Linked DNA regions of Homo sapiens. The protein of the gene in region 7 interacts with the protein of the main gene of each other region in a biochemical or structural test. Each region holds a gene or a part of one and is shown on either strand. Other genes may lie near its edges. The genes, in order: TAMALIN, MPP2, CARD11, PDZRN3, PALS2, SYNJ2BP and CAPN6.

Region 1 (3,983 bases), on a different chromosome or scaffold from region 7:
AGGCGGAGCTTGCAGTGAGCCGAGATCGCGCCACTGCACTCCAGCCTGGGCGACAGAGCGAGACTCCGTCTCAAAAAAAAAAAAAAAAAAAAGAAGTTCTGTCCCAAAGCTAAGCCCACCCAGGACCCTGGGCTACCCTCAGATTTGGTTATTTCTGTCCAGTCCACGCTGGCCATAAGACCCAGTCAATTCAGGGAAGAGCAGGTGAGCAGCACCCAGCTGGGAACCGACCCTGGCCCCAGGCATGGCATGGCCTCATGGATCCACAGATAATCAGTCCAGCCTCTGGTGGTGGGAGAGAAGCACAGGGAATGACTGGCCCCCAGAGGGATAGTTCTGCTACCCTGCACCACTGGAGAGCTTCCTGACCTCAAGCACAGTGTGCCCCATGTCAGGGCCCCATTCCTATCTGTAAAAAGGGGTATGGATCCCTGCTGTGGATGCTTCAGGGATGATGGGGAGGGAGAGTGGATTTGAAACTACTTTGAGAAGTTGTAGTATACCACTTGGCTACTGCTACCATTTAAATATTGTTTGTCCCCAAAACTCATGTTGAGGCTTCATCCCCAACGTAACAGTGCTGAGAGATGGTAGGACCTTTAAGAGGCATTTGGGGCCGAGCGCCGTGGCTCACACCTGTAATCCCAGCACTTTGGGAGGCCGAGGCGGGTGGATCACCTGAGGTCAGGAGTTCGAGACCAGCCTGGCCAACAAGGCAAAACCCCATCTCTACTAAAAATACAAAAATGAGCTGGGCTTGGTGGCCAGTGCCTGTAATCCCAGCTACTCGGGAGGCTGAGGCAGGAGAATTGCTTGAATCTGGGAGGCAGAGGCTGCAGTGAGCTGAGATCATGCCATTGCACTCCAGCCTGGGCAACAAGAGCGAAACTCCATCTCAAAAAAAGTGGCATTTGGGCCATGAAGGATCTGCCCAGTGAAGGGATCCATGCTGTTTTTGGGGAGTGAGTTCTTGCTCTGGTAGGACTGGTTTAGTTACCTGGCGAGTGGGTTGCTATAAAGCAAGATCACCCATGTTTTGTCTCTTTTGCGTGTGCCTACTCACCACTCTTGCAGGCGTTCCTGCCATGAGATGCCATCCATCATGTCAGAACGCAGCATGAGGCCCTCACCTGATGCGGCCACCCAGTCTTGAACTTCCCAGCCTCCAGAACCATGAGCTAAATAAACCTCTTTTCTTTATAATTACCCAGTATCAGGTATTCTGTTATGGTAACAGAAAATGGACTAAGATAGCTAGCACGGGCTGCTGGTAAGTGGGAAGGAGGTAGGGGCTTAGGGGCAAAGATGGTGGAGGGGGGATTGATTCATACAGTTTCAGGCTGCCCTTCCTGGAACCTGGGGACTCTAGATCTGCTCAATCCAGGGATCTCCTGCTGAAGCATAATTTCCTTGTTAGAGGAAGTAACATATTGCTTTGGGAGGCAGAGGCAAGAGGAGGATCGCTTGAGCCCAGGAGTTCAAGGTTATAGTGAGTTATGATTACGCCACTGCACTCTAGCCTGGGTGACAGACTGAGGCCCTGTCTCTTAAAAAAAAAAAAAGTTTCTAATTTTTTAAAAGGGAGTAACATCGGTTCCTCAGCACTGGGCCCATTTTGGGGCAGGATTGGCCTGATCCCCAATATCAAACAGACTTAATGGAATGTTGCTTCTTCCCTGGCTCCTGCCCATGCTGACTGCCAGGGTTGCTGGGAGGAATCAGAGCAGCAGCAGCATCATCCACCATTAATTAGGCCCTGGCAGTGTGCCCAGGGAATCCCCTTGCCGCACTGTGATGTTTGGATGCATTATTACCCTCATTTTGTAGATGGGGCTGTGCAAGATCACACAGTACATGGCAAATTTGCCTAGATCCAAAGCCCAGATTCTATCCATTCTTCTTTCTGGCCTTCTCAAAGAAGGAAAAGGAAGAGGAATTGATTTCAGGAGAGATTGCTCACCCCCTTTGCTTGGGAGTAAGGTCATATCCCCTTCCCAGACCTGGGTGTCCTGGGCTCAGGCCCCACCTGGTGTGAGCCCAGCCAGCTGGGCAGGGCTAGACTCATGAACTCGGCAGACAAAGGTCACCATTTCCACACGCTGCTCCTCCCGGTGGTGAAGGCCATAAGTCTGTAATGGACAAGGGGACCCTCAGCCCAGGGTTGGGACAAGTCCGTTCATCCCTCAGGCTGGTCATCCAACCCCCCTGACCCCTGTGTGCAGCTTCTCCCACCTGGATCTCAAAGCCGAAGGTCTGGTTATCCTCCTTCTCCAACGTCAGCACTTTCCTGCAAGAGACACAGGGGTCAAGACAATTAGGATTAAAAGGTGTAGAAGTCCCATAGCTTGGGCCTCCCTGGATATTGGCAACTGGTCTAGAACATTCCAGCAGGACTCTGTCTCCAGTGACAGCTCAGTCTCATCACAGATTATTGGAATGTCTTTCCCATACCCAATTGAAATCAGCCTCATGGAGCCACAGAGAACCAATCCAGCCTCTAGTGGTGGGAGGGAAGCACAGAGAAGGGCCGGTCCCCTGAAGGATGAGCCGGCTGAGTTTTTTAGCCCCATCCCAGCTTTCCAGTGAGCCCTACAGTACCACTTACTGACTAGCTAAGGCCCGAAATTCAGCCACAGCCTGGAGCCTCCTCTGTTCCACAGCTTTGGAGAGAGGACTGGCCCCACCCCCAGAGGCCAGTCACGAGGCTCAGCAAGACCACAGCTGCTCCTCCCAGCTATGCTGGGGCCAGCCCACCAGATGTGGGGGCTGGGGGAGGGGAGCCTCGAGGCCGCCCCTTCCCGCACTGAAGGCCTGCCCGCTGGACACAATGGTCTGGAGCTGCTCCAGATCCTCGCCTGCTGGGGGAGCCCAGAGTTTCCTCTGCCCACTCCCACCCCCTTCCTTCCCGCCCAGCCAGAGGCACAGTTAAAGCAGCCTCCAAAGGCCCCTTCAAGTAGCTCAGCCTCGGAAAGGCCCTGGAGACCAGGCTTCTCCGCTTCCAGCCTGACCCAGAGATTCCCCCAAATGCTGAGCAGCACCTCCCCACTCCAGCTCGAGCCCCTCTCACTCTGAACAGCAGGCCTTTCCCCTCTCTGTACTATTGGGGCAGGGAGCAGGGTGGCTGGGAGTTCCGCGTCTACCCCAATGTTCTAGGGTTTTTTGGAAGGGTCAGCAAACTTTTTCTGCAAAGGGCCAAATGGTAAATACTTTAGGCTTTCTTTGCAGGCCCCTTATGATCTCTGTCATATATTGTTATTTGTTTTTATTTTTACAACTCTTTAAAAATTATTAGCTCAAGGGCCAAACAGGCCAATCTGGCTAGCAGGTCAGTTTGCTGATCCATTTTAGAGAAAGTCAAGCCCAAATCAGGGATGGGACATGAGTAGAGAAGGGAAACTGTGGGGTCCCAGGGCCTGGAGTCAGCACCTACTTCTGCCCACGCTCAGATCCCTCCTAAGAGGGCTGCCACAGGCTGGGACCAGAAGAGGACTGACATTCTGGAGGCAGGGGCAGCCAGCCCCAAGCAGCTGGACACAGCCTGGCTAAGGTCTGGGCCCGTGGGGTTTGCCAAGGCTAGGAGGGCTCAGGGGAGCCCAGGAGGCCTGGGTTAGGACGTTCCCCATAGACTTTGCCTACACCCCCTCCCAACTCCCACATCCGTTCATCCAGATCTCCCCAGGGAGGGGTAACTGGCAGGGACTGGGGGTGTGTTGAAGAGCACCTAATGACTCAAAAGTCCCTACCTCCTTTCTCTGCCACCCCCTTCACACAGCCCTCACCCCCACCTGCCCTCACTCCCAGCGGGGGAGCCATGTTTAAAGGCTAGGAGAATGACTACCCTCGCTAGGCTGAGATGCTGTCCTGGCACCCCCCAACCCAGCACCTCACCCCTTTGGACCATGGCAGGGGCTGGGTGTTGGTGACTCACCGCTGCTGTTCAGGACTCTGGCTGAGATTCTTCCAGCGGAATCCTGAGCCCTGGG
Region 2 (4,261 bases), on a different chromosome or scaffold from region 7:
ATGGGCAGGGGCAGGTTACAGTGCCTCAGACACATATATGCACCCCTACCCAGGCCCCCGTTTCCCAGCCTTGGAGGTGCAGTCTGCTCCCCATCTTGCCAGCACTGCTGCCTTTGCACACACCTGCCCCCCACTCTCCCCATTGGCACACACAGAGACATGAGCTGGTAATCATGGTCCAGCCCAGAGCCCACAGAAGAGAGGCTGAGGTCCAGAAAGGGCAATGTACAGCCCAAAGCCACACAGCAAGAGCCAAGCAGACCAGGGCAGTGCTCTTAGTCCTGCCTCTGGCAGCCAGGAGCTTCCACCACCCCCGCTGTTTCTGCCACTAAGAAGCCCTGTCTTCCACAAGGCTACACACATGCAGCTCGTAGCCTGTTTCACCCGGGTGCACAGCTGGGCACTCACTTTCTTCATGGCTTTTAGCAAGTGAAACAAGAGAAGGAAAGTGGACGCCAGCCCAGCCCGCTAGGCCACCTGTTGGCTGGACACCTCCCTCACCCTTCCTGAGCCTGAAGTTCCCCTAACCACCCACAGAGGGCGTGCACCCCAACCCGTGTACCCAAAGGTACCACCTGGCCTGGTGCCCATGAAGATGCCCATTCGGTGGGCCCAGCCCTGGCCCCAGGGGAGCCCTGCTCCTTGTCCCCAACTCAGCAGGGCCCAGCTCCCACTCACAGGGCACCGTGGTGCCATAGCGATCTGGATCCCACATGATGAGCTTGTTCTTCAGGCTGCGCCGTCCCACGCCCTGAGCCCCAATCAGTACCAGGGTTTTCCGGCGGAACGGGGGCATGCGGGCCACCTCCTCATAAATGAGCAGCTCATGACGGTCAAACTCTGGACACAGGGAGATGGCGCTGCTCACCAGGCTGCACGGTGAGGGAGGGGCGGAGCTCTCAGGGAGGCTGAGGGCAAGAGGGCTTGGAACAGGGGAGCAGGGGGGAGTCGGGCAGGGCCTAGGGACACGGCTGGCAGCATCTGAGCCAGGCACACGTCGTCACAGGTGATGGGTGGGGACAGGGAAAGGCATGCCATGTTAGAGGAGGGTAAGGGAGGGGGCGCTCTGATACCCACCTGCATTCTTGGTGGTCAAATACATCATTCGCTTCTTTTTCTTTCCTGAAAGGCTGCCGCATAGGGTCCCTGGCCATAGGGAGATGGGTGAGTGAGGCAGACAGGGCCCTGTTGGATCCCAGATTGGAGGTGTGGGGTAGGGGGGACCTCCTACCTGAGTTTGGTGTCAGCTCCAGGTCCCTCTTGACAAATGCTTTCCGCTTCTCCTCCAGCAGCTGGCTGGGAATGAGCCCAGCACTGCCCCCTTCGACATGGCATGCCTAAAACGGACATGAGACCAAGATCTGCCTGAGCAAGAGGACCCCTCCCTGTGCCCTCGCCCTCCCATGCACCATACCTGGAGAGATGCGGGGGTGCCCGCAGCTCACCTGCCACCAGTTGGCATCATCCTGGTTTACGATCTGGAGCAAGTCCCCGGCGTTGAAGCGCAGGCCTGCTTCCTTGCAGGGGATGAGGCTGTCTCGGGCCGGGTCATAGTCAAAGTGACATTTCACAAATACCTGGGCCCAGGAATCAGCAAAGGGTCGGGGGAAGGGTCAGCAGAAGGCTGCAGGTGGAGGTCTACCCCATGCCCCCTCTTTTCACAGAGACTAAGGGGCAATGGAACTGTCCCCCTGCAGGAGTGATGCCTCCAGGCCTGCCCATGCTCCTCCCTGGTGCCAACCTCCCTTTGCATCTAGTACTACAGGATTCAGATCTCAGGACCAAGGATGCGGGACCACCAAGTAGGGCACAGGACCCTGGCACCTAATCCTGGATCCCTCCCTCCACTCACCCTCTCCCCTTGGAGAAGGGCTCTGGTGGAGGGCGAGAGACCCAATAGGATAGGGAGACAGAGCAGCCACACCCCCAGAATTGACCAACCAGGAGACAGCTATCCAGGACATATGACAACCCCACCCTGCGCACGCGCACAAACGTGAAGAACGCTGACCATAATGCAGGCGCTCTCTCATACACTTGTACCCCAGGCTGTGGCTGCGTGCATAATACCAGCCAATGTGGGAGCATGTGCAGGTGCAGCAGCGGCAGAGGCCTGTCGGCGGCTGCGGTCAGCTGCCCCTGGGCTGCAGGTCCCACCCCCATCTTCCCTGGAGGAAACCAGTAGGAGAGGAGGGCCTCCGTGAGACCTGCAACCTTGACAGCCAGGAGGCTCAGCCATCCCTTGGGCCTTGTGCTGGGTGAGGGGCCCACCTGGCGGGGCAGATGGGGCTCCTGGTAGCTGGGCAGGATCTTGAGGATGACACTGCCACTGGCATTGCGCAGGAGCTCCTGCAGTGCGCGGGGGTCACTGCCCACTGGCTGCCCGTTCACCTCCTTGATGATGTCACCCACATGCAGCAGGCCTTGTTGAGCCACCATGCCCCCATGCAGAATGCGCGCGATCACCAGCTCGCCGCCCTCCACGCGGAACGTTACACCCTGGAGGTCAGAGGGAGTGTAAGATGAGGCCCCAATTGCTCCAAGTCAGAATCTTCAAATAGTCTCCTAATAGCTCCTCCATTCCTGTCCCTACCCACCCACCCCCACCCTCACAAAGTCCTCCTCCATCCTTCTGCCTAAATTCTTCACTTACAGCAGGTACTAATGAGGGGAGAGGTGGGCAGACTGGAGAGGTGCGGACACAGGTGTGTGTGCAGTGTCTATGGTCTCCTGGGTCTTCCCCCGACCCTTTGCTGCATCAATCCTTCCCTGCACAAAGCTGGCCCCATCTTCATCTTCAGACCACACTTGGCCTTTTTTGTCCGTTCATTGGTTATTCTCAATCCCCCCACCCTCACCAGCACCACCTCTGGCCCTGCCCAGTCCTCACCAGATGTTCTCCGGCTGTCTTGCGGATGCCCACCATGCGCACAGCATCGGGAGGTACAGGCTGGTTGCTGAATGTAGGGTCCAGGCCAGGGCTGGGGGGTGGTGTCTCATAGGTCTTTGAGGCCACAGAGTCGTGCGTCTCCAGGAGGGACTGGGGGGTGGTGGGAAGAGAAGGGACAATGGGGCAGTGTCCCGGGTCTCTTCCCATCCCAGATCCAACTTCCTGCTGGCCCATCCAACAGCAGCATGCCCCAGTCCACCCACCTCCTGCTCCCTCACCCCAGCCCTAGCAGCCAGGAACCTGGAAGTGGGGCTCCTGGAGGATGTGGGCCAGCTCGGCGGCTGTGCTGCTCTGCTCAGCCAGCTGCGCCAGGTCCCGCAGGATCTCCTGCACCAGCTCCAGGTTGTTGTCTCTCACGGCCTCCAGCTTCGTCTCCTCCAGCCTCTCATGGGCCTGGGGGTGGAAGCAGAACAGGTGGGGCTAGGAGCTTCCCCAGGAGCCCTGGGACACCAAGCAGGGTCCTCCCTCAGCCCCCAGGCATTTTCCCCATCCCACCCCCCAGCCCCCAGCTTCAGCTCCTCACTCACTGACAATCATACCCACACGTGCACATGCATTCCTTGCTGTCTCCTTTCTTCCCCAAAATTACTAGGACCTAGTTTAGGGAAGGAAGAAACCAAAGGACAAACCTTCCTTTCCATCCCCTTGCCACAGAGGGTCATTAGAAGTTACCAAATTGTCCCCAGCTCCCAGGACCCTATATGCATTGGCGTTCAAAGATGGCTTCTTCCACCAGACATCATGGTTGGGTGGGGCCTTGAAGACCCTGAAGCCCAGGATGAGGAAATTAGGGAGGTAGAATAACTTTCCCAGGGTCAATGGGACTTGAACTTGCGTCTCCAGGCCCTCAACTCAGTGTTCCCAGCGAATGAGGGGACAGGAAATCAGAACACGGTGCCAGGAGCAGGCCCTGCACCTATTTGTTGCTCTGCTGGCTCCGGGCTCCATACCAAGGAGCGCTGAAAACAGAAAAGGAATCCTTCGCCAGTGACCAGCCCAGTGGGGAGTGTTAGGTTAGATGGGTCAGGAAGAAAAGAATTCCATTTCAATAATATATATGAAGACCATTTTTCCCCTCTGAATCTTTGAAAGATCATTGCAGACAACACAAGCCACTTTACCCCAAAGTATTTCAGCATGTATTTCATAGGAACAAAGACATTCTGCTGCATAAACCACAATACCATTATCACCTGCAAGAAATTTAACATCGATTCATTAATACATTATGTAAGACAGTCCACATTCAAATGTTCACTCTTGTCCCAAAAGTATCCTTTATAATTTTATTTTTTCTGATTCAGGATCTAA
Region 3 (4,261 bases), on a different chromosome or scaffold from region 7:
ATGTTACCTATTCTTTAAGTGAGTAATTCAGTAGCATGAGGTATATTCACACCGCTGTGCAACCAATCTCCAGAACTTTCTCAACTTCCCAAACTGCAACTCTGGGCCCATTAAATACTCACTCCCCATCTTCCCTCCGGCAGCCCCTGAGAACCACCCTTCTACTTGCTGTCTCTAGGAATCTGACTGCTCTAGAGACCTCACAGAAGCGGAATCACATACAGCATGTGTGTTTTTGTAACTGGCTTATTTAACTGAGAATGACACCCTCAAGGTTCATCCATGTTGGAGTGGGTGTGAGAATCTCCTTCCTTTTCAAGGCTGAATAATACTCCACTCTATGGGCCGGGTGCGGTGGCTCAGGCCTGTAATCCCAGCACTCTGGGAGGCCGAGGCAGGAGGATCACTTGAAGTCAGGAGTTCGAGACCAGCTGGCCAACATGGTGAAACCCAATCTCTAGTAAAAATACACAAATTAGCCAGGCATGGTGGTGGGCACCTGTAATCCCAGCTACTCGGGAGGCTGAGGTAGGAGAATCTCTTGAACCTGGGAGGTGGAGGCTGCAGTGAGCCGAGATCGTGCCACTGCACTTCAGCCTGGGTGACAGAGTGAGACTCCGTCTCAAAAAAAAAAAAATACTCCATACAGTATTTTTGTTGTGATACACACTGCACCATAAACACATTCCCAGGCAGGACAGATCAGGGAAGGGGGTATGTACCATGCTAGTATTTCTCATGCATTAAATGTATTATTGTTTCTTTGTTTCAACTCTTTTTTTGTTAACAGTTTGCAAGGTTTTCAGCTCTTGCCACCTTCCTAGCCTGTATGGATGGGCCCTATTGTGTGTATTCACTCCCCACAGACCGACCCTTAGGTGACGTCTACGTTTTGGCTATTGGGAGTAACGCTGCTGTGAACACGGGCGTGTATATGTCTCTTACAGACCCTGCTCTCAATTCTCTTGGGGATATGCCCGCAGGTGGGGTTGCTGGATTATATAGTATTCTATTTTTAATTTTTGGGGGCATCGCCATGCTGTCCTCCACAGTGGCCGCTCTCTTTTGCATTTCCAGCAGCTGTGCACCGGGTTCCGACGTCTACCCTCCTCGTCAACACTTGTCAGTTTCTGTCCTTTTGGTCCTGGCCAGCCTAACGGGTGTGAGGTATCGAGGGGGATGCCCGTCTCTTTTGCTCACTGCTGCGTTCCCCAGAGCCTAACCCTTCACAATGGCTCAGTGAGTATCTGGTGAAAAGGAATGAATGGGCCTAAACTCTCAGTCTGTGATTCCCTCTGCAAAATGGTGGCAGGACATTTATTTTGCAGGTGCGTGCGAGGAGGGGCGGGGATCCGAGATGAAGCCACTTAAGGGCCAGTCTGTCCTCATCACCCAGGCCCCAAACCTCAGCGCCGTCCTTTCGTTTTTTTTTTTTTGTTTTTTTTTTTCTGAGATGGAGTCTCACTCTGTCGCCCAGGCTGGAGTGCAGTGGCTCGATCTCAGCTCACTGCAACCTGCCCCTCCCACGTTCAAGCGATTCTCCTGCTTCTGCCTCCTGAGTAGCTGGGACTACAGGTGCCCGCCACCACGCCCAGCTAATTTTTTTTGTATTTTTAGTAGAGATGGGGTTTCACCATGTTGGCCAAGCTGGTCTCAAACTACCAACTTCAGCTGATGTGCCCACCTTGGCCTCCCAAAGTGTGGGGATTATAGGCGTGAGCCACCGCGCCCAGCCTCTGGTTCTCTGGAACCCCAGAGTGAACCCTTTCCCGAATCCTGCAGGCTCGACCCTGAACACGGATTCGGAGTCAGACTGCCTCTCATCGCCTCTCAGACAGAAGCCCGGCCCACACCGCCACCCTGCCCGTGTCCAGAGGTGAGAGGTGCGTTTATACCCTAAAGTGGACCATGCCACCTTCAGTGGCCTCCAGATGCACCCAGAACAAGATGTCGCAGCCTCCCGTGGCCCTGCATGGCCTGGACCCGCTGCCCCTCACCCCTCAGCCTCTCACTCTCCGTCCCTCACCCTCCGCCCCTCACTCCTCAGCCTCTCACCCCTCTGTCCCTCACCCTCTGCCCCTCACTCCCCAGCCTCTCACCCCTCCGCCCCTCACCCCTGCGCCCCTCACCCCTCCACCCCTCACCCTCTGCCTCTCACCCCTGCGCCCCTCACCCCTCAGCCTCTCACTCTCCGTCCCTCACCCTCCGCCCCTCACTCCTCAGCCTCTCACCCCTCTGTCCCTCACCACTCCGCCCCTCACCCCTCCGTCCCTCACCATTCCGCCCAAACATCTGTCTCAGGGTCTGAGCACCAGCTGTTCCCCTGCTGCCCAGATTGCGTCTTCTTTCTCATCTCCTAGGCCCCCCTCACTGCCATGGGTCTCGCTGATGGATACCCCAGGCCTTCCCGGACCACCCTGGGTGATGGGCACTCCGCCCCGTCCCTCCCAGCTCTTGTCCCCTGGGATGCGCCCCATATGTGAGTCACCATCTCGGCCGCTGTCCTTGGCATCAGCTCTGCAAGGTCAGTCCCGTACTTGGTGAGGGTTTACAAAAGGGGTGCATGAGGTGGGGGCACACAGGCCTCCTGCGATCCATGGAGGCTTGGTGGGGTGCTAGGGACAGGAGGGGACAGCCCTTAGGGGTCTGGGAGCCCTACCTGAACCTCTTGATGTTCTTCTCACACACCCGGATGAAGAGCACGATGGGGTAGATGTTGGACTTGATCAAGTCTCTTGTGCAGCCGATCCCAGCCTCCAGCAGGCAGTGCTTGTTCTGCGGGCACAGCGGCTTTGGTCAGCAGCAGCCCACCCACCTCCCGCTCCTGTGAAGGTGCCTGCAGCGGGGCCTGGATGCAGGGTTGGGGTCTATAGCGGGGCGGGAGCCCTGAAAGCCACCTGCCGCTGATCCAGGAGATGAGACCCCCACATGAGTCTGGACACTCCAGGACTCTGCTGACCACAGTGATGTTCATGGGCAGAGATGAGGCCCCGGACGGGGTGAACCAGGTGGCGTGAATGAGTTTGAATGAAACACCTGCTACCAGCCGGGCGTGGTGGCTCACGCCTGTAATCCCAGCACTTTGGGAGGCCCAGGCGGGCCGATCACTTGGGGTCAGGAGTTCGAGACCAGCCTGGCCAACACGGCAAAACCCTGTCTCTACTAAAAGTATAAAAATTAGCTGGGTGCGGTGGCCCACGCCTGTAATCCCAGCTACTCGGGAGGCTGAGGCAGGAGAATCACTTGAACCCGGGAGGTGGAGGTTGCGGTGAGCCGAGATGGTGCCACTGCATTCCAGCCTGGGTGACAGAGTGAGACACTGTCTCAAACACACACACACACACATACACACACACGCACACACACACACACCCCAAAACACCTGCTACCCTAGCCAGCCTTCAAGTAAGAGGGTAGGGAACACATGAAGGGTGAGGCGGCGAGGCTGGCAGGTCCCAGGAGTATCTGCAAGGTTCTCAACCATGAGCTCATCATTTTGAGAAAGGGCAATTTCTGCTTTGCTGAAGGCATCACTTAAAAAAAAATTCCACCAAATGTTGGCATGGTGGCTCATGCCAGCAATCCCAGCACTTTGGGAGGTGGGAGGATTGCTTGACGCTAGGAGTTCGAGACCAGCCTGGGCAATATAACAAGACCCTATCTCTAAAAAAATTAGAAAATCATTAGCTGGGCATGGTGGTGAGTAACTGTAGTCCCAGCTACTCGGGAGGCAGAGGCGGGAGAGTTGCTTCAGCCTAGAAGTCGCGGCTGCAGTAAGCCGGGATCATGCCCTGCACTCCAGGCTGGGCAACAGAGCGAGCCCCAGTCTCTAAATAAATAAAACATCAAACTTTGCATTGGAATAGAACATAAACACAGCATTCTAAGCATGCAGCTCAGTGAATTTCACAAACTGAACGCAGTCTAGCACTCGTGTCTGGAGGTGGGAATGACCCCCCTCGCCCAGGGTCTCCTTGGGCCTCCTGCGGGGCCACTGCTCCCCATTCCCCACCAATAGGACCATGGCCCACATTTCTACAGCACAGATCTGCTGGAAGGCTTCTTCTTTTCAGCTAAAAACAATCTCAGCTCCAACCCTGTCTGCTCACTTTCTATCCACGCCAGCTATCAGAATTTCCTAAACTGCTGTGGCCCAGACTTAAAAAAAACAAAAACACCACCATCTGCTCTTGCCATCCCCAAGGTCAGCGTCCACCACGGAGCCAGCCCCCGGCAGCTGGGGGAGCCCTCCAGTGACGCG
Region 4 (4,261 bases), on a different chromosome or scaffold from region 7:
GGAATCACTGTATCATGTCAAAAGAGATTAGAATTTGACTGCAAAAGGCACAGTGTTGTCAATTGCAATTATACATATATCGTTTCTCTATTGTGGTCATCCTTCTTTCCATCTCAACACTACATGATTAATATTTTACATACTGTCCAAAATAGGAATGTGACTTACCAGAAACCGTACTCAACATTTCAAATACAGATCATCCTTTGCCAAGAGAAAATCCTGCCCAGCTGTAGATTTCTCATTTGCAAAACACAAGAGCAATGAAATTCCATTACTTAGAGAAACTGGCTGTTCCACCAAACCCTTGGCAACGGAAGCTGTACTTATCTTTTTGAACAATAGTCTCAGAAAATGTATTCACTCTCAAAAAAGACAGTAAGTAACGCATTTGAGCTCTTAAGAAAGCACTCTTGCCCAAGCAAATTCCTGTTAGGGAAAATCCAGTCTCCTGACCTGGGAAGTACAAAGACTGACTCTAAACCATGCAGCAAAAAAAGCTCCAAGTTTAAGAACCCTTCAAACATTCAAAGGGGATGCAACAATATTAATAATGTCCTTAAAACAAAATCAAGTATCATTTTAGCATGTAAGTTAGCACATCACACTCCCTCCGAGGAGGGAGCCTTACACCCTAACTAGTTCAGTTTGCTTTCCCTGTGAGATTTAACTGTGTATTTTCCTGAGGATTACAAATTATCCTGAAGCATACTGCACGTTGCAGAATGTGTCCAGATGAGACTGGAAATGCAAGACTTTGTTCTCTGTCTTGCTGAGGCTCCTTTCCCCAGGAGAAGCCTGTGGCCACATTCCAGTGAGTGATGTGAACTTCACTTATGGCTTAGCTCGTGGTCCTAGCTCCCACTCAGTCCTAAATTTTGAAATAGGCCATGAAAATACTCAGGAAATACAGACATGATAAAAATGCATGTGGAAAACAAACACCCACTGGTATCGGTGCTGTTTTTCTGGTTTCTTCTATTTGCACTATATTACGGCTGTGGCCCATGGGTGAATTTCTTGTGGGGTCTGGCATATCATCGTGGATTCTCAAATTTACTTTTTGCCTAATAGGAAAGCCAATCAATTTAGCCCATATGTGTATCCATCCAAAGAGCTATGAAAATGGTCAAAACACCAGTAAAAAATTACTCATTTATATCAAACTTTGCAACAAGAGCCCATATGAGAAGGCAACAAATCATTCTCTCCCTTTTAGTGACTCAGAGCATCCTAGAACACTGCAACCCTGTTACAAAGTGTTGTCTGGTGGGGCTGAGAGATCCACTTCCCCTACATGAGTCTACAAACCTGCTGTATAAAAGTTTGAAATGATGAATGACGAACTGAAAATGGAGTAAGTGATGATATGTGAACCCTAATATCAACCTCTGCCTGCAAATCCCTGGGCAATCAGGTTGTACAACTAACAACAGGCAAAGACGACAAACTAACAGAGAGAACAATGCATTTGTAGAAATAAGTGTGTGCTGTGTGAGCTCTGAGGACATTAGAATGACTCCAAAGCTGACACAATTGTACCCTGGTAATCAATATGAACAGGGTGCACAATTTGTACAACAGGGTTCGTTCATCTGGTTCTAACATCCAACTCTTCAACGGTTTTCGCGCGAAACTGTAACTGATGCATACGAAACAGATTGAGGTCCACATGAAAAAAGCCAAATTGTGAACATTCCACTCATAATCTGGCTTTTCTACATTTAACAAAAATTTAACACCAAGGCAATCAACACTCAATCTGGTCCCACACAATGGGAAAAGTGAGACTCCCGCTCAACCATCTACCACTTTAGGCCTCCCTCCCCAGTCAAACATCTTGCTTTGAGCTAGACGAAGATGGGATGGCATTCAGCCTATTCAAAGACACTGGCCAGTATTCACATACCTCAATAATCCTGTCATGAATTTGCAGGCCTCCTTCCTTGGCTGCAGGCCCACTGTCAACTATCTTGGATACAAAGATTCCTTCACTGGATGATCCATCGTGGTTATCCTTTGGGTTAAAAAAAAAAACATGCATGAATGCTAGGCATTAAGTTGAGCATGAAAGTAAAGCTTGCACTCTTAAAACAGTAATTGACTCTTGCTGTGTCAAGAGTGGCAATAGGGTAAAAGGTATTTGTTTCTCCTAATTTCTGTTTTAAACTAAAATACACACACAGTAAAATATTTCAAACCACACCAAAGGACATAAAATGATGCATCCCTGCCATCTCCAACCCATTGTCCTTCTTCCCCCGCCTATGGTAGCTATTTGACTTTATGCATCCTTTTGAAAACATTTTAACACATCATATTCCTAAATATGCATTTGTTCCTTTTTGCATACAAATGTGATTATGCTAGTCTGACTCTTATGTCCTTGCCTCTCTCATTTAACTCTAAAAATCATGAAGATCTTCTGCTACCAATTCGTGTCTGCCTTACTTCTTAAAGTGACTGAACAGTATCCAACATGAGGCTAATAAACACTGTTTTCATTTGCTGTGATTAAACAATGCTGTGATAATACTCTCCTACTTGTATTTTAAATTATCTTTGCTATTATAGTTCTAGGGCAAATCCCTAACAATGGAACTGTTGGGTAAAAGGATATGTACATTTCAAAGATATTGCCAAATGGCTTTTCAGAGAGTTTATACTTATTGTTCATTAGACAGAGTGTTTTCCCACATCCTCATTTGCACAGAATGTTATTAAACTTGTAAATATCTAATAATTTGACTGTGAAAACAGATATTTTGTTTTTGTTCCGATGCACTACCATCACTCTAGTCCTAATAAATTCTGATCTCTGACCTCCTTGAATCTCTTTAGATCTTTGAATTAAATGTCAGAACTAAAACTTTCTGGGAACGAAGACAGCTCACTGTTCAAACTCCTTCCTTTCCTTAAAATCAAAAGGCTCCAACAAGCTCATAAAAAACCCTCACAGCTTGTTCACGAACTTCTTTTCAAACAGCACTGCAATGAATTCTCTCCAAGTGTACGGATTAAATTTCTAGTGATTAACAGATGGATTTATAAATTAAATGGCACAAGCATGTGATATTTCCAAACAAAATCATTTGAAATGTAAGCTCAGAATGTTCCACAAAAACTCCAAAATCTAGTCATGGTAAATTCCTTGCCGTATGTCATTAGAAGATTTATTTCAATAACAATTACTCTGAATACAAATACATAAAAATTCCATTTGTTAAAAATAACTCTTCAAATAAAACATTTTCCACTTTAAACAGCAAAAAACAAAACCAAAAAACAATCCCTATATTCTAAAGGGGGAAGGAAACGACTTCAAGTGTGATTCAGTCTACCCCTTCAAATGCAACAGCAATAACTAAGCTTGGAAAAATGTACATTTCTCAGTCCTTCTCTCCTTCCTTCTTCACACTTCCCCAAACACACACACACACATACACACACACACACACACACACAGAGTAAAATGTTATATGATTCACCAAAAGAAACCAAAATCACAACCTAAAATGAGCATTAAGTGTTTTTCCTGACATTTATCCCCACATGACAAAGATATGTCTCTAACTGGCATCTGGATTCCATCAACGCTCTTCCAAGAGAAGGGTCAGGGAGCCTGTGGGTGCTGTGTAGGATCATCTATCCTCAAAAGGCATCCCTGCCTAGCATCACAGTGCTCTGCACAGACCTCCTGCACACTAACCCTTTACCATCTGAATACCTCTGTGCCTCCTTCCTCTCTCACGGCAGCCTTACTGAGGCACTAGTCTGAACACATCCGTGTAGCTCCCTACATGCACACCTGAAATATATGTATAAAGCTGCAAAGCAGCTTCCTTTACTGAGCACAAACTAGGTACCAGGTACATAGTGAGTGCTCTATGTGCACTGTTTAATCCTCACAATAACCACAAGTGGTAAGTACTATTATTACCCATTCCACAGGTGAAAAACCTGAGACTGAGAGAGGTTCGGAAACTCATCCAAGGTCACACAGCTAAAAAGTGGTATGGCTCAGTTTCAAACTGAGGCGAAGCGGATCCTCTTGCACATTACATGCTCTGTGTGCAATATTGTCTCCCACTGAGAAAACTCAAAACACACAGGAATTCAGAAGTCCAACATTTCAGGCTATGGAATATTCCACTAGATGAACTTGAAGAGTCTCAATGGACCACAAAAGATTTATGAACAAGCTTGAGTTCCCTAAGAGGTGATGTCAATATATCAAATGAAAAGAGATCTGTGTTTACTC
Region 5 (4,261 bases), on a different chromosome or scaffold from region 7:
CAGTAAACTATCGTGAGAACAAAAAACCAAACACCGCATATTCTCACTCATAGGTGGGAACTGAACAATGAGATCACATGGACACAGGAAGGGGAATATCACACTCTGGGGACTGTGGTGGGGTCGGGGGAGAGGGGAGGGATAGCATTGGGAGATATACCTAATGCTAGATGACAAGTTAGTGGGTGCAGCACACCAGCATGGCACATGTATACATATGTAACTAACCTGCACAATGTGCACATGTACCCTAAAACTTAAAGTATAATAAAAAAAAAAATTAAATAAATATTTAGCATGGGAAAAAAAAAAAAAGAAAGGATCTGAATAAGATATCCTCAAAAATGCCTCCTAGGATTTATAACCACTTTATTTGGGGGCAGGGGACCTTATTGAAAGTCGTGAAAAGTTTCTTTCAAGAAAGTAATGGTGAATGGAAACTAATTGTATAGTATCTGGTATTTCCAAATTGAATAGCATAAAATGATAATCTAACATTTTAATTGGGTGAATAGTAAAACTTTATAAAGATCATTAAATTCCTTCACGGAAAATTTCTCTACCTAGTTGTTTTCAAGAGCTTAATGCTAAGGATTGGTTGGTGATGGCAAACTGAGACTACTTTGTCTCACAAGATAGTCCAACCTTTTAAAAATAGGGCTTACATTTTTTTTTACTGACCTCCATTCCAAAAGATTACTAGCTAAAAAATAAAAAACATTTAAATTGATTTGTATAAAAATATGAATGATTTCCAGGCACGGTGGCTCACGCTTGTAATCCCAGCACTTTGGGAGGCCAAGGCAGGCAGATCACGAGGTCAGGAGTTCAGGACCATCCTGGCCAACATGGTGAAACCCTCTCTACTAAAAATACAAAAATTAGCTGGGCGTGGTGGCACACATCTGTAATCCCAGCCACTCAGGAAGCTGAGGCAGGAGAATCACTTGAATCCGGGAGGCAGAGGTTGCAGTGAGCCGAGATCACGCCACTGCACTCTAGCAGCCTGGGTGACAGAGCAAGACTCTGTCTCAAAAAAAAAAAAAAAAAAAAAAAAAAGCATGACTATCATTTCAAAAATAAGCAACTTTAATAAATTAAACTTCTTTACTCAATTATCTGAGTTTCTTATATCAAAGCTCTTTATAAGAAACCCAATTATTGGAGTTTCTTATACCTTCTAGCTCCTTATACAAGGATAGAAGATAGAAGGATATTAAAAGAGGAATAAAAAAAGCAAATAATTTTTTATTTATGTAACTAAAGTTAGGTTTTCCATATAACATTTTATTATGTGCATATAGACATACATATTCTAGTAAATAAAAAGAAGACAAATCCACTCAAAGATAGCCACATTCAAACTTCAAATAATATTTATTACAGTTAATGAAAAAAAAATCAATGTTTCTTTTAGAAAAGTAACGCAAGCACTAAGCTGGTAATACCAATAAAGTATTTATAGTAATATTCTATAGATTATTTATAAACTCTGCCATTACAGAACTAAAACAAAATGTTCTGAAACATTCAAGAATTTGTAAACAACTGACATTAGCCCTCACCATATCACCAGATTGGATGCTGTTCAAATGAGCTGCGACTAGAATTAGTATTCCCAATTCCTTAGCAAGCCATTATTACAAAATAGGATTTCATTTTCTTTATATGCATCATATGCTGTATTTGATACAAGATGATGGGAGTTATATTCTTTATATGAAAATCAGTTGATGCTTTGGGAAGACCCCAAAAAAGCAAGTGACAAAACAACAAAACAAAATGATAAACTGCTGTAAAATTAAGGGTAAAACAAGTATAAACAATTGAGGAGTCATAAAACATTAGAAATCTAGATCTTATATGCAGACTGCTTCACAAACTTTTAAGTTCTCACTCCAAAGCTGGTAATCAGTGATAATGCATTGGCTTATATAAGAATGATGACCCAGAGTTCCTGGCAAAAGACACATACTTAAAGAAAAGACTGACACATGAATGTAGATTTTTAAGTAATATATTATTTAAGATATGTGTCAATCGTTTATGACTCTTCACTTAAATCACTTTCAGTCAGCCAAAACTACCACCCGTTCTGATCAAATCAGATTAAAGGCTTTTACTCGTAATAGAGGCATCAAAATTTTTTCTGGATACCCCAAAAAAGCTATTGGCAATAGTTGCCTTTAGAATAACGTTTCTCGGCTTCATCACTACTGACATTTTGGGCTGGATGACTCCTTGTTGAGGGGGGCTGCCCTGTGCACTGTTTGCAGCATCCCTGACCTATACCTTATACATAGTAGTAGCAACACCTTCCCAGTTGTGACAGCCAAATATTCCTGGAGATTGTTCAGCAAAATCATCCCTGATTGAGAAATACTGACTTAGAAAGTGATGAAGATGGGACAAAAAGACTTATCAACTCCTCCTCCCTTTTCTGAACTATTTAAATTACCATTATGGTAGGCTGAATAATAGTCTCCCCCTCCACAAGATATCTATGTCTTAATTCCTGACACCTATGAATGTCACCGCATTTGGAAAGTTTCACAGGTGTGATTAAAGATCTTGTGATGGGGAGGTTATTCCAGAGAGCACTAAATGCCTTCACAAGTGTCCTTCACAGAGGGAGATTTCCCTTTCTCTCTGACACACACACACACACACACACACACACACACACACACACACACACGTGGGGAAATGAAAGACACAGAGCTGAAAGATTTCAAATGCCAGCCTTGAAGACTGCAGTGTGTAGCCGCAAGCCAAGGAATGCCAGAAGCCACCAGAAACTGGAAAAGGCAACAAGTAAGTTCTCCCTTAGATTCTTTGGAGGAAAAATGTCCCTGTTGACACCTTGATTTTGGCCCAATTATACTGATTTCAAATGTCTGGCCTTCAGAATCGTAAGAGAATACATTTATTTATAAGCCACTAAGTCTGTGGCAATTTGTCACAGCAGTCACAGAAAACTAATACAATCATAAAAAGATTTTAGTGACTTAAAAAACATAATTTTAAAATCTGCAACAAGCAGATGAGATAATGTGTGGAGAGCATTTAACATAGACCTTGAAACATGGTGGTATCTATAATATTATCAAATGTTTACATCAGCATTAACTATGACTAAACGCCAACCTCTTGATAGCAAGAAGAAAAAACAAGGAAGCTCAACTAGTAAAACTGGGTATATTTGTTCAAGGCTCATGTGAACGAAAACACATAAATCATCTACTCATGTGATGAGTGTACTTGCCAGTTGTATAAGCACTGTGTTATAATTTGTTCTGTACTGAAAAGATAAATTATGGATGAGGCCACCTAATGATGGCTTCCTTGGAGAACCATGCCTGAATATTCATTAGTAGAAAAGAAACAAGAAGGCAGAGGAGGGAAGAGTATGCAAGAGAGTAAAGCAATGGGGATCAATGAGGTATGTGCAGAAGTATTGACCTGGTGAGAGACCAAGTTCCAGCATTAGAGTTACCTAAATTATATACAACCTCAAAAGCTTTGTTGAATGATTTCATTATTAAAATGGAATATTCCACAGGATGTATTATTTTACACTCAAATGGTGGCTCCTGGGGATTTTAACAATATAAACATGCTCCTGCCCCATACCAGACCTACTAAATTAGAATCCTTTAGCGTAGGATAGCTCCAAAGGATTCTGATGCCCACTTAGGTAAAGAATCCCTGCCAGAGTCACTTCATGGTAAAAATGACCTACAGAACAAAATATAAAGTATTTATCCTTGAAATATGCATTTAAGTAAATCAGCTTAGTATTTTCCTAAGTTAAAACTTCTCCCAACATGTACCCCTCTGAGTTCCACCACAGAATTTCTCTAAACGAATCCCTCACCTTTCACTTTTCCTTTCCTAAGCATATGGCCCCCAGTCTGCTCAGAGAATCATTTTCCCCACACTTTCTCATACATTTTTCTTTAAAAGTCCCACATATCTCCAGCTGCCCTATTCTATCTTTTAAAAATATTAATCCTACCCAACTAATATCTAATAATATCCTACAGAACAAAGCAACTATGAAAAAGTTCCATTAATATGCTATACAATAAACCAAGATTTATAAAAAATTGCTCTATTGCCTATTCTAATAAATATTCTAAGTAGATTTATCAAATGAAATTGAAAATCACTTTTTATAAAAGATTTCTTCCAAAAACATAAGAATTATGAACTGGGTCTATAAAAAGGTGATAAGCTAAGCTCCTTCAATTAAATCTTT
Region 6 (4,261 bases), on a different chromosome or scaffold from region 7:
ATACCTTCCCTTCCACACTTTCCTTCTCCCAAGCTTCTGGAGAATTTATGTATGATAGTGCTTTAGAAAAATCTCTTGAGAGTTTCTTTTTTTTTTTTTTTTTTTCCATTTTGGTGGTGGAGGCAGTGGTGTAGGTATTGGCAGAGAAACCTCAGAACCAGAAAGGTAACTGCTATTTCATGGTAGGACTAAATCACCAAATTTACTCTCCCTTCCTTCGCTACTTCAAGTACAACCATATATAGGTTGAGTATCCCTTATCCAAAATGCTTAGGACCAAATGTGTTTTGAATTTTGAATTTGGGGGATTTTGGAATATTTGAATTAAACTTACCAGTTGAATATCCCTAATCCAAAAATCTGAAATCTGCAATGCTTCAATGAGCATTTCCTTTGAACGTCATGTTGGCCCTTAAAAAATTTTGGAGTTGGAAGCATTTCAAATTTCAGATTTTTGGATTTGGGCTACTCAATCTATACTTGGGCATAGTAATTGACAACTTTTATTCACTGTAGAAAAAACTGACTACTCGTTGATTAGCAACTCCCCAGTTCCTCTTCCCTAAGTCCTTGGAAACCACCATTCTAATATTTGTTTTTATGAGTTTAACTATTTTAAATGCATATAATTTTAGTTATGCAAGATGAATTAAGTTCTAGAGATCTGCTGTACAACATTGTGCCTACAGATAATACTATATCATACACTGAAAAATCTGTTCGGAGTAGATCTCACGTTAAGTGTTCCTACCACAGTAAAACAAAATATTAAAAGAAAGAAAAAAGAGAAGGAAAGAAAACTGAGTACCAAAGTGCTATTTCTATGGACCAATGACTAAGTGCTGGAAAGGATTTTACTGTACAGAAACCGTTGTTAGGAAAGGATTTTACCTATGCATAAAAAAATAAAAAGGAAAAAGGAACTTCTCTAGGGCTTTCTTAATGTCAGCTACTGGTAGAATTCAGGGGCACAGTGTAAGACAAAGGAGATAGTTTGGAAACAAACCAAAAATCTAGCGGTGCAATTGGAAGGAATAACCATAATCACCAGCCTACACTGTTCTCAATAGAAAAGATACTTAAAGAGACATATGCGGGGGGCCGGGCGCGGTGGCTCACGACTGTAATCCCAGCACTTTGGGAGGCCAAGGCAGGTGGATCACAAGGTCAGGAGATCGAGACCATCTTGGCTAACACAGTGAAACCCTGTCTCTACTAAAAATACAAAAAATCACCTGGGCATGGTGGCAGGCACCTGTAGTCCCAGCTACTCGGGAGGCTGAGGCAGGAGAATGGCGTGAACCCGGGAGGTGGAGTTTGCAGTGAGCTGAGATTGCATCACTGCACTCCAGCCTGGGCGACAGAGCAAGACTCCATCTCAAAAAAAAAAATAAAAAAGAGACATATGCGGGCTTTCTGAAAGTTCTCCCCATTGGTGGGAGAAAAGCTTACACCTGAAGCTCACAGTATTAACATAAGCACTAGCAAATCAATTTGTAATTTAAAGAAAAACATGACCAAACAAAGACACAACAGGAAACATTTAAGTTAAAAAGCATACCTTAGCCAGGCATGGTGGCTCACGCCTATAATCCCAGCACTTTGGGAGGCCAAGGTGGGTGGATCACTTGAGCTCAGGAGTTCGAGACCAGCCTGGGCAACGTGGTGAAACCCCGTCTCTACCAAAAATACAAAAAATTAGACACGCGTGGTGGCACATGACCAACATTGGGAGGCTGAGGTAGGAGGATCATTTGACCCTGGGAGGCAGAGGTTGCAGTGAGCCAAGATTGTGTCACTGCACTCCAGCCAGGGTGACAGAGTGAGACCCCCATCTCAAAAATAAAATAAAATACATAAAAAGCATACCTTGTGCATAAAATCTCTGCAGCTAGATAATAGAAAGAATTTATTCTCTAAAATAATATACATAATAGAAAGTGCTACTTCTGGAGTTTGTGACCTGGCTGGGCAACATAGCAAGACCCTATTCTCTAAAAAAATAAATAAGAAGGTGCTACTTCTGGAAGATGCTATTTTAACTTCCTTGAAGGGCTGGGTATTAAAAATAGTAGCTTAACTTACTAAATGATTTTCTTAGAGCACCCTCAATTTGTATCATAGAAGGTAGGAAGTATTGGAGAAGGTACAGAAATGTAAGATAAGGTGGAAAAGCAGATGGAACAAGATTATCGAAGGTTTTGAAATGACTTCAAAACTGTGACAGCTTTGAACAAGGGGGCCAAGGCCAACCCACCTCTCCCAAGCTGGAACAAACTATGTAGAAAAATCTTTTGATGAAATCCAACACCCTCATCAAATGCTACAGTTGCCTCTGGTGATCTTGGGAACAGGAAGCAAATGTTAAGCAGCTGAATGCAATGTAGTAGTTAGCAACAGAAAGGACTTTGCTACTGGTTATTCAAAGCTAACTGTAGAAAAAAAAGGAAGAGTAGAAGAAATTTTACCGAGATTTACCATAAACAAAAAAGAGCCGTCTACTACACACCCCATCGAAGTCATATTATATAGGTACATTTATAACCCGTTGCTACTTCTGTTGTAAATGAACCAAACTATTTAACATGAGAACTCCTGGACTGACCTGAAGCCCTTTGTTCAGCCAGAATATTTACAGAACTGGGTGTATCTATAAGCCAAAGCATTGCTGCAATAAAAGAGTCACCACAGCATTAAGTAGTGGCATGACCAACTGAACCTGGGCTGTACGGATACCTACATAATCCCCAGTTCACTTGCTCAGTAAAAATTACTGATTGAATCTTATGTGTAAGATGTTGTGTTATCATCTGAGGAAGACATAAAGTTAAACTGCACACTCCCTGCTTTGATCACAAACTGGAGTTTTTCCTTTTTCCTGTCCCTTTAAGATATTGCAGAAGCAAATCAACATTTACTATGTGTTAGGCATTACGTTATGCTCTGAGGAAGATATAAAGCTAACCTGGACAGTTCCTATTTTAACCACAAACCCAAATTTATCCTTTTCCCTGTCCCTTTTAGATATTGTAGAAGCAAATCAAAGTCAGAAGACTTGGTTCTAAGTTTATAACTTACCAGATATGTGGACTGAAGCAAGTCAGTTTACCTCTGATCCTCAGCTTCCTTTTCTACAAAAATAAGAATTATAAATTCTGCCCTGTCTACATCAATGGGTAAGTGTTAGGGGCCAATAACATAAAATACGAAAAAAAATCTTCATAAACTACATAGTAGTTGCTCTATTGGGATAAGGCGCTAGGAGTAGTTGTCAATAAACTAATGGCTGCTAAAGCTCCAAACTAGATAGTTTGACAGAGAAAGAATGAATAAATATACAGTAGAAATGCAAAATCTCCTAAAAAATGGGAAGACAGATTTTAAAATTCCACCCATCTATAAACAGGAACTCAAACTTATTAAGTACGTCTATGGCATGTGACCTAGAAATCCCCCTTAAGAGTAGTTTCTAGCAAGTGTGATATCTAAACTCTGCGGCAATCATCCAGCATATGGACCAACCAATTGAAACAGATGTCAGTTGGAAACCACCAGAAAGGGAAAGGCTATTCAATACGTATCTTGCTAATCATTGGCTATGGCCCAGAAAAATCTTGCATAAGTAGGGTGACCACATATCCCAAAAGCAATTGCCACAAAAGCCAAAATTGACAAATGGGATCAATTAAAGAGCTTTTGCTCAGCAAAAGAAACTATCATCAGAGTGGACAGGTAACCTACAAAATGGGAGAAAATTTTTGCAATCTATCCATCTGACAAAGGGCTAATATCCAGAATCTACAAGGAACTTAAACAAATTTACAAGGAAAAAACAAACAACCCCATCAAAAAGTGGGCAAAGGATATGAACAGACACTTCTCAAAAGAAGACATTTATACGGCCAACAACATATAAAGAAAAGCTCATCATCACTGCTCATTAGAGAAATGCAAATCAAAAGAGATGCCATCTCATGCCAATTGGAATGGCGATCATTAAAAAGTCTGGAAACAACAGATGCTGGCGAGGATGTGGAGAAATGGGGATGCTTTTACACTGTTGGTGGGAGTGTAAATTAGTTCAACCATTATGGAAGACAGTGTGGAGATTCCTCAAGGATCTAGAAGCAGAAATACCATTTGACCCAGCAATCCCATTACTGGGTATATACCCAAAGGATTATAAATCATTCTACTATAAACACACAGGCACACATATGTTTACTGCAGCACTGTTTACAATAGCAAAGACTTGGAACCA
Region 7 (4,261 bases):
GTGTCTTGAATTTCCATAAAATTTTCATTTCACAGTAGGTATCTAGGCTTAGCCAACACTTTTGGCATGTCAACTTCTATTGAAGACATAAAGGGTCACATAAGTGAGCAAAAAGACATATAAACAATTCAAATTGAGGAATGGGGTAATTATTCTCTTCTTGACCCAAGATGGATATGATTATTATATATTATATGTGTCTATGTATATACATGTATGTACATATAATATATATATTAAAAGCTGTGTGAAATTCATGAGAGAATGTAAATTTGGGACCCCCCCCCCCACAACATTCCATTTCCTCTTATAAACTGGCCCATTCTCCAGTTATACTTTACCCCTTTTCATACGTGATGGCTATTTAACAATAGATTTAAAACATGACAAGTTAACAGTCATAGAATGTCAAAACTGGAATGAATTTTGGAGACTATCTAGTAAAGCCTATTTTTCACATGAGGAAGCAAGCTCAGAGAGGGGCAATAACTTGCTACTCTGATCATCTAGCTAGTCAGCAGGAGACCTAGGCCTAAAGTTTTTTATTTTTCAGAACCACATATGGCTAGAGAAAGAAGCTGAAGACCTCAGTCATCCATCCCTGTGCCTTTAGGCTCAACAATGGCCACCACATAAAGGATGATATTGTGCAACTCCTCAGGGACAGAGATGCTACTACCTCTTTCAGTCATTCATCCCAGTGTTTTATGCCTCTGCTTAAAACCTACCTAAACACTCTTCACTCTTTTGGGAAATTTACTTACCTCTTAGCTTTTGGTTCCAGGATGAATATCACTAATAGGCGTTAGTCTGCTCAATTAAATTCAATAAATATGAATCAATCTCTTACTATATGTAAGCATCGTGATATGAAATACGGGAAATAAATCCTTTATTAAGCCCTATCTTCTGCCTCTTTAAGGAAGTGAGGCATTAAAAGACTAGAAAGTAGCCAAGGATTTAGAAAGGGTAAAGGGTAATAAGCCAATGCAAACCTAGCAGCCAAACAGACTATTTGGTGACAAATTTGAAAACAACAAAATGACTGTTTGTTGACTTCTCCCCTAATTTTGGACACACTGGATATCTTCCTGTTGGGGTTAAGGATGTAAGACGAGAAATTTTTCTGTAACTCAAAGCTGAGATGCAGAGTGCAGATGGGACATTTCAGCTTGAGCTGTGCTGGAGTGGTAGGAATGGGGTTGGAGGAGAGGTCACAGCACACATATTCACAACATTTGGGTGGCTTAGGAGCAAGGAGGGATGCTGAGCCCCTAATGGCTCCCAGCTGTGCTGGCACAGTTGAAGTGATCATTTTGTCACGGCAAAATGATTTCTTAGGAAGAAACACACAACTAGGAAGTTGAGTACCAAGAGTAAAGCTGAAATGGTCCCCGCATGACCCCACTTCTGAGCCAAAACCTTCCATTAAGCAAAGCAGCTTCTCTAGGAAGTGTGTTCTCTTAGCTTAGTCTTAAGGGACTTCTCATTGTCCTTACTTCATCCTCCTTCCCAGAGACCTCTGAGCGGGAGGGGGCATACAGTTACAAGTCCTGTAGCCCTGCACAAGGCACTCTATGTGACTCCCTTTGCACCTACCACATCCAAATTCAGCATTTTTTTTACACAGGTGAAATTTACTGACAATAAACATGGAGGTCCAGGGTAAACCGCAGGAACCTCAGTAAAATGAAAAGCTGCCCAGAAAACCAGCAGCCAGAATAGTGGAAACACTTTCAAAAGTGCTACGTGCAATCTAGCAGTAGTGAGGGGGTAGGGGTGTGGACACCTACAAGTGAGGTCAGGCCTGCAGTAGGTATATTATGAATAAGTCCAGGGTCTAAATAGTCCCAGAAAGCTCAGGGGCTAATTTGCACAGAACTGCTATTCAGGAACTGAGGGTTTTGTGAGCTAGTCCAAGTAGTCGTTATCTTACTTAGAAAATTGAACCATCCCCCAGATGGAGCATTTATAGGTGGACTTAGGCTCAGGGACTAATGTTGCACCAGCCTCTCAAGAAGTCCACTTTTCCTACTGGGGAGTTTCAATTCTGCATGAAGATTTTATTATCAATAAAATAGTCTCTTCCTTCCTAACCCATCCAAGGAAAGCTCAATATGGAGAATAGAATAGGATCTTAGGCCCAACCTCCACTTCCAAACTGGGCCACCAAATCACTGTGTAATCATTTTCTCACTTTAACCTTCAGGATTCTGCTAGGAGACTCAAGGCACAGATCCCGAACTGCTTTTTTGGGAAGAATTTATATATCTATGCAACGGAATACTGTTCAGCAATAAGATGGAATAAATTGATACATGCTACAACATGGATGACTCTTGAGAACATTATGCTAAGAAAAAGAAGCCAGTTACTTTTATGATTCCATTTTAAGTGAAATGTACAGAATAGGCAGTTCTGGATAGAAACCAAAAGTACATTAGTGGTTGGCTGCAGCAGGGGTGGGGGTAGGGTGGAGGGATTACTCCCTTCAAATGTGCACAAGGGATCTTATTGAAGTGATGCAGCTCTTCTACAACTGGGTTGTGGTAATGTTTGCACAACTTTAAATTTACTAAAAATCATTGCTTTGTATACTTAAAACAGGTGAGTTTCACAATATATAAATTGCACTTCGATAAAGCTGTTAAAGTTTGTTAATGCATAATTTAAAATAAATAGGACAGTTGGAGAAAAGACTATGGGCCTATTCAACTCTCTTCAATTGTGTAAACAGTGGAAAACACTTAGGACTACTCACATGGGGTGATATAGTCTCTGGGAAGAAAAGGAAATTCTTGAGCAGACTAGGCCAAAACTACTATACCTAGGTGTTGCATTCAGCTGGTGGTTGGAAATTTCTATTAGCACAGAGAGAAAAGTGTTTCTTTCCTTACGGTTCCCTCATATGCTGTCACCCAAGCCTGTATATTCTGCTTCTAATGTCTTCCCTTATCTGCCTTTCCCTTCCATTCCTACTACCATAATTTTAATCCAGAGCCTCATCACCCTCCCACTCTCAACCAGACAATGTAGTAAAATGGCCCCAGGGGAATGTATTCTAGAGGGGAAGACTAGGCAATGGCAATGGTAGCGAAGGCTGAACTTAAAACTTGACAGGAGAGCTGACAGATCTTGTGCAGGTGCCCTTTTTTCCTCACAGCTGACAGTGCAAATTCCCATGAGGCTTTACTCCTTTTTAGTCAGGGATTAGATGTGTCTGATTTTAAGACACTATTGTAGGTAGATATGAGTCAGTAAGGAAAAACGCCAGAGGTGGGTAGGAGGGGAGAGTGGCTGGAGGGAGCTGGAGAAGAGATTTTCTGTGGGAATTTGGCAGGCAGATTTCAGCCTAAAAATCCTACCGGCAGTCTTATGATCACACTGTAACTCAGTATAAGTTAGACCTTATAATTTATGAAGACTATATATGTTGAGCTCCAGGAGAATAGAAAAGTCCAGGAGCACATGGTCTCAGGTAATATACCTGTGTATTCAGAAAGCTAGGACAACAGCTGAGGCCAATAGACGGCTGGAGAAATTAAGAAGAACTTTCCTCTGGAGGGTATGGGCAGATGATCTGGCATTGAACAATTGCAAGACATTCATAATTCCTGTCATCTGAAGAGGCTCCTTAAAACACAGCAAAGAAGTGGCAAGTGGGAGGAGGGGAACTCAATCCTGCCCAAGAATGGGGCGGCGGGGGGCCGGGGGGGCGCCAAGGCGGCGAGGGGCGGAGCTTGACTGGAGTCAGTTTGTTAAACTATCAGTGGTGTTTGCAGGCATGGAGGCTTACGAAGGCAAAAGCCTTCAACACGAGAAAGGAAAAAGACAGAAAATATCAGGTTAATCGTGTTGCTTCCATTTTGGAGACTTCAGAAAATAGCCCCAGTTAAGTGTGCAGCTACATGGCATGCCAAGGGACAAGATGTCTGTAAGTTTCGCTGCAAACCAGGATCTCAACCTTGCCAATGAGGTGGGGGAGGCCAACGGCTCATCTGGCCTTCCTGAGCCAATTCAGAGAGGCCCAGCTCTGTCTCTCAGCTTTCCTGATGGGAGGCCAGAGAACTTTGACGTGGTTCTTGACCACAGGCTTGGCCTCCACTCTGGCTGGGAAGGAATCCACAGCTTTTGGAGGAGGCTCAGATGGTGGTCCAGAACCTTGTTTTTTTCTCCTGCTCCCCACAAGAGGCCCCTTCTCCAACCATTCCAATCTATGGTAACCTCCCCTTCTTCAAAAATTCTACATGATTTACTGTCC

Evidence for each region.
Region 1: the proteins of CAPN6 (region 7) and TAMALIN interact in a test that uses a peptide from one of them, tested with the Homo sapiens proteins (one large-scale study listed by IntAct).
Region 2: the proteins of CAPN6 (region 7) and MPP2 interact in a test that uses a peptide from one of them, tested with the Homo sapiens proteins (one large-scale study listed by IntAct).
Region 3: the proteins of CAPN6 (region 7) and CARD11 interact in a test that uses a peptide from one of them, tested with the Homo sapiens proteins (one large-scale study listed by IntAct).
Region 4: the proteins of CAPN6 (region 7) and PDZRN3 interact in a test that uses a peptide from one of them, tested with the Homo sapiens proteins (one large-scale study listed by IntAct).
Region 5: the proteins of CAPN6 (region 7) and PALS2 interact in a test that uses a peptide from one of them, tested with the Homo sapiens proteins (one large-scale study listed by IntAct).
Region 6: the proteins of CAPN6 (region 7) and SYNJ2BP interact in a test that uses a peptide from one of them, tested with the Homo sapiens proteins (one large-scale study listed by IntAct).

Annotation. Positions count from the first base shown.
Region 1 is NC_000012.12:52,009,185-52,013,167, reverse strand, and holds part of TAMALIN (protein TAMALIN), read right to left. Parts: intron 3,979-3,983; coding exon 3,929-3,978; intron 2,677-3,928; exon of another isoform or gene 2,606-2,676; intron 2,288-2,605; coding exon 2,233-2,287; intron 2,130-2,232; coding exon 2,027-2,129; exon of another isoform or gene 1,986-2,026; coding exon of another isoform or gene 1,961-1,985; intron 1-1,960. UniProt on the Homo sapiens protein: Plays a role in intracellular trafficking and contributes to the macromolecular organization of group 1 metabotropic glutamate receptors (mGluRs) at synapses.
Region 2 is NC_000017.11:43,880,013-43,884,273, forward strand, and holds part of MPP2 (MAGUK p55 subfamily member 2), read right to left. Parts: intron 4,144-4,261; coding exon of another isoform or gene 4,072-4,143; intron 3,344-4,071; coding exon 3,191-3,343; intron 3,041-3,190; coding exon 2,891-3,040; intron 2,500-2,890; coding exon 2,272-2,499; intron 1,578-2,271; coding exon 1,446-1,577; intron 1,338-1,445; coding exon 1,232-1,337; intron 1,147-1,231; coding exon 1,078-1,146; intron 873-1,077; coding exon of another isoform or gene 841-872; coding exon 679-840; intron 1-678. UniProt on the Homo sapiens protein: Postsynaptic MAGUK scaffold protein that links CADM1 cell adhesion molecules to core components of the postsynaptic density. In CA1 pyramidal neurons, required for synaptic KCNN2-containing channel function and long-term potentiation expression.
Region 3 is NC_000007.14:2,907,391-2,911,651, forward strand, and holds part of CARD11 (caspase recruitment domain-containing protein 11), read right to left. Parts: intron 2,776-4,261; coding exon 2,660-2,775; intron 1-2,659. UniProt on the Homo sapiens protein: Adapter protein that plays a key role in adaptive immune response by transducing the activation of NF-kappa-B downstream of T-cell receptor (TCR) and B-cell receptor (BCR) engagement.
Region 4 is NC_000003.12:73,600,445-73,604,705, forward strand, and holds part of PDZRN3 (E3 ubiquitin-protein ligase PDZRN3), read right to left. Parts: intron 2,018-4,261; coding exon 1,910-2,017; intron 1-1,909. UniProt on the Homo sapiens protein: E3 ubiquitin-protein ligase. Plays an important role in regulating the surface level of MUSK on myotubes. Mediates the ubiquitination of MUSK, promoting its endocytosis and lysosomal degradation. Might contribute to terminal myogenic differentiation.
Region 5 is NC_000007.14:24,579,682-24,583,942, reverse strand, and holds part of PALS2 (protein PALS2), read right to left. Parts: intron 1-4,261.
Region 6 is NC_000014.9:70,389,288-70,393,548, forward strand, and holds part of SYNJ2BP (synaptojanin-2-binding protein), read right to left. Parts: intron 1-4,261. UniProt on the Homo sapiens protein: Regulates endocytosis of activin type 2 receptor kinases through the Ral/RALBP1-dependent pathway and may be involved in suppression of activin-induced signal transduction.
Region 7 is NC_000023.11:111,256,568-111,260,828, forward strand, and holds part of CAPN6 (calpain-6), read right to left. Parts: intron 1-4,261. UniProt on the Homo sapiens protein: Microtubule-stabilizing protein that may be involved in the regulation of microtubule dynamics and cytoskeletal organization. May act as a regulator of RAC1 activity through interaction with ARHGEF2 to control lamellipodial formation and cell mobility.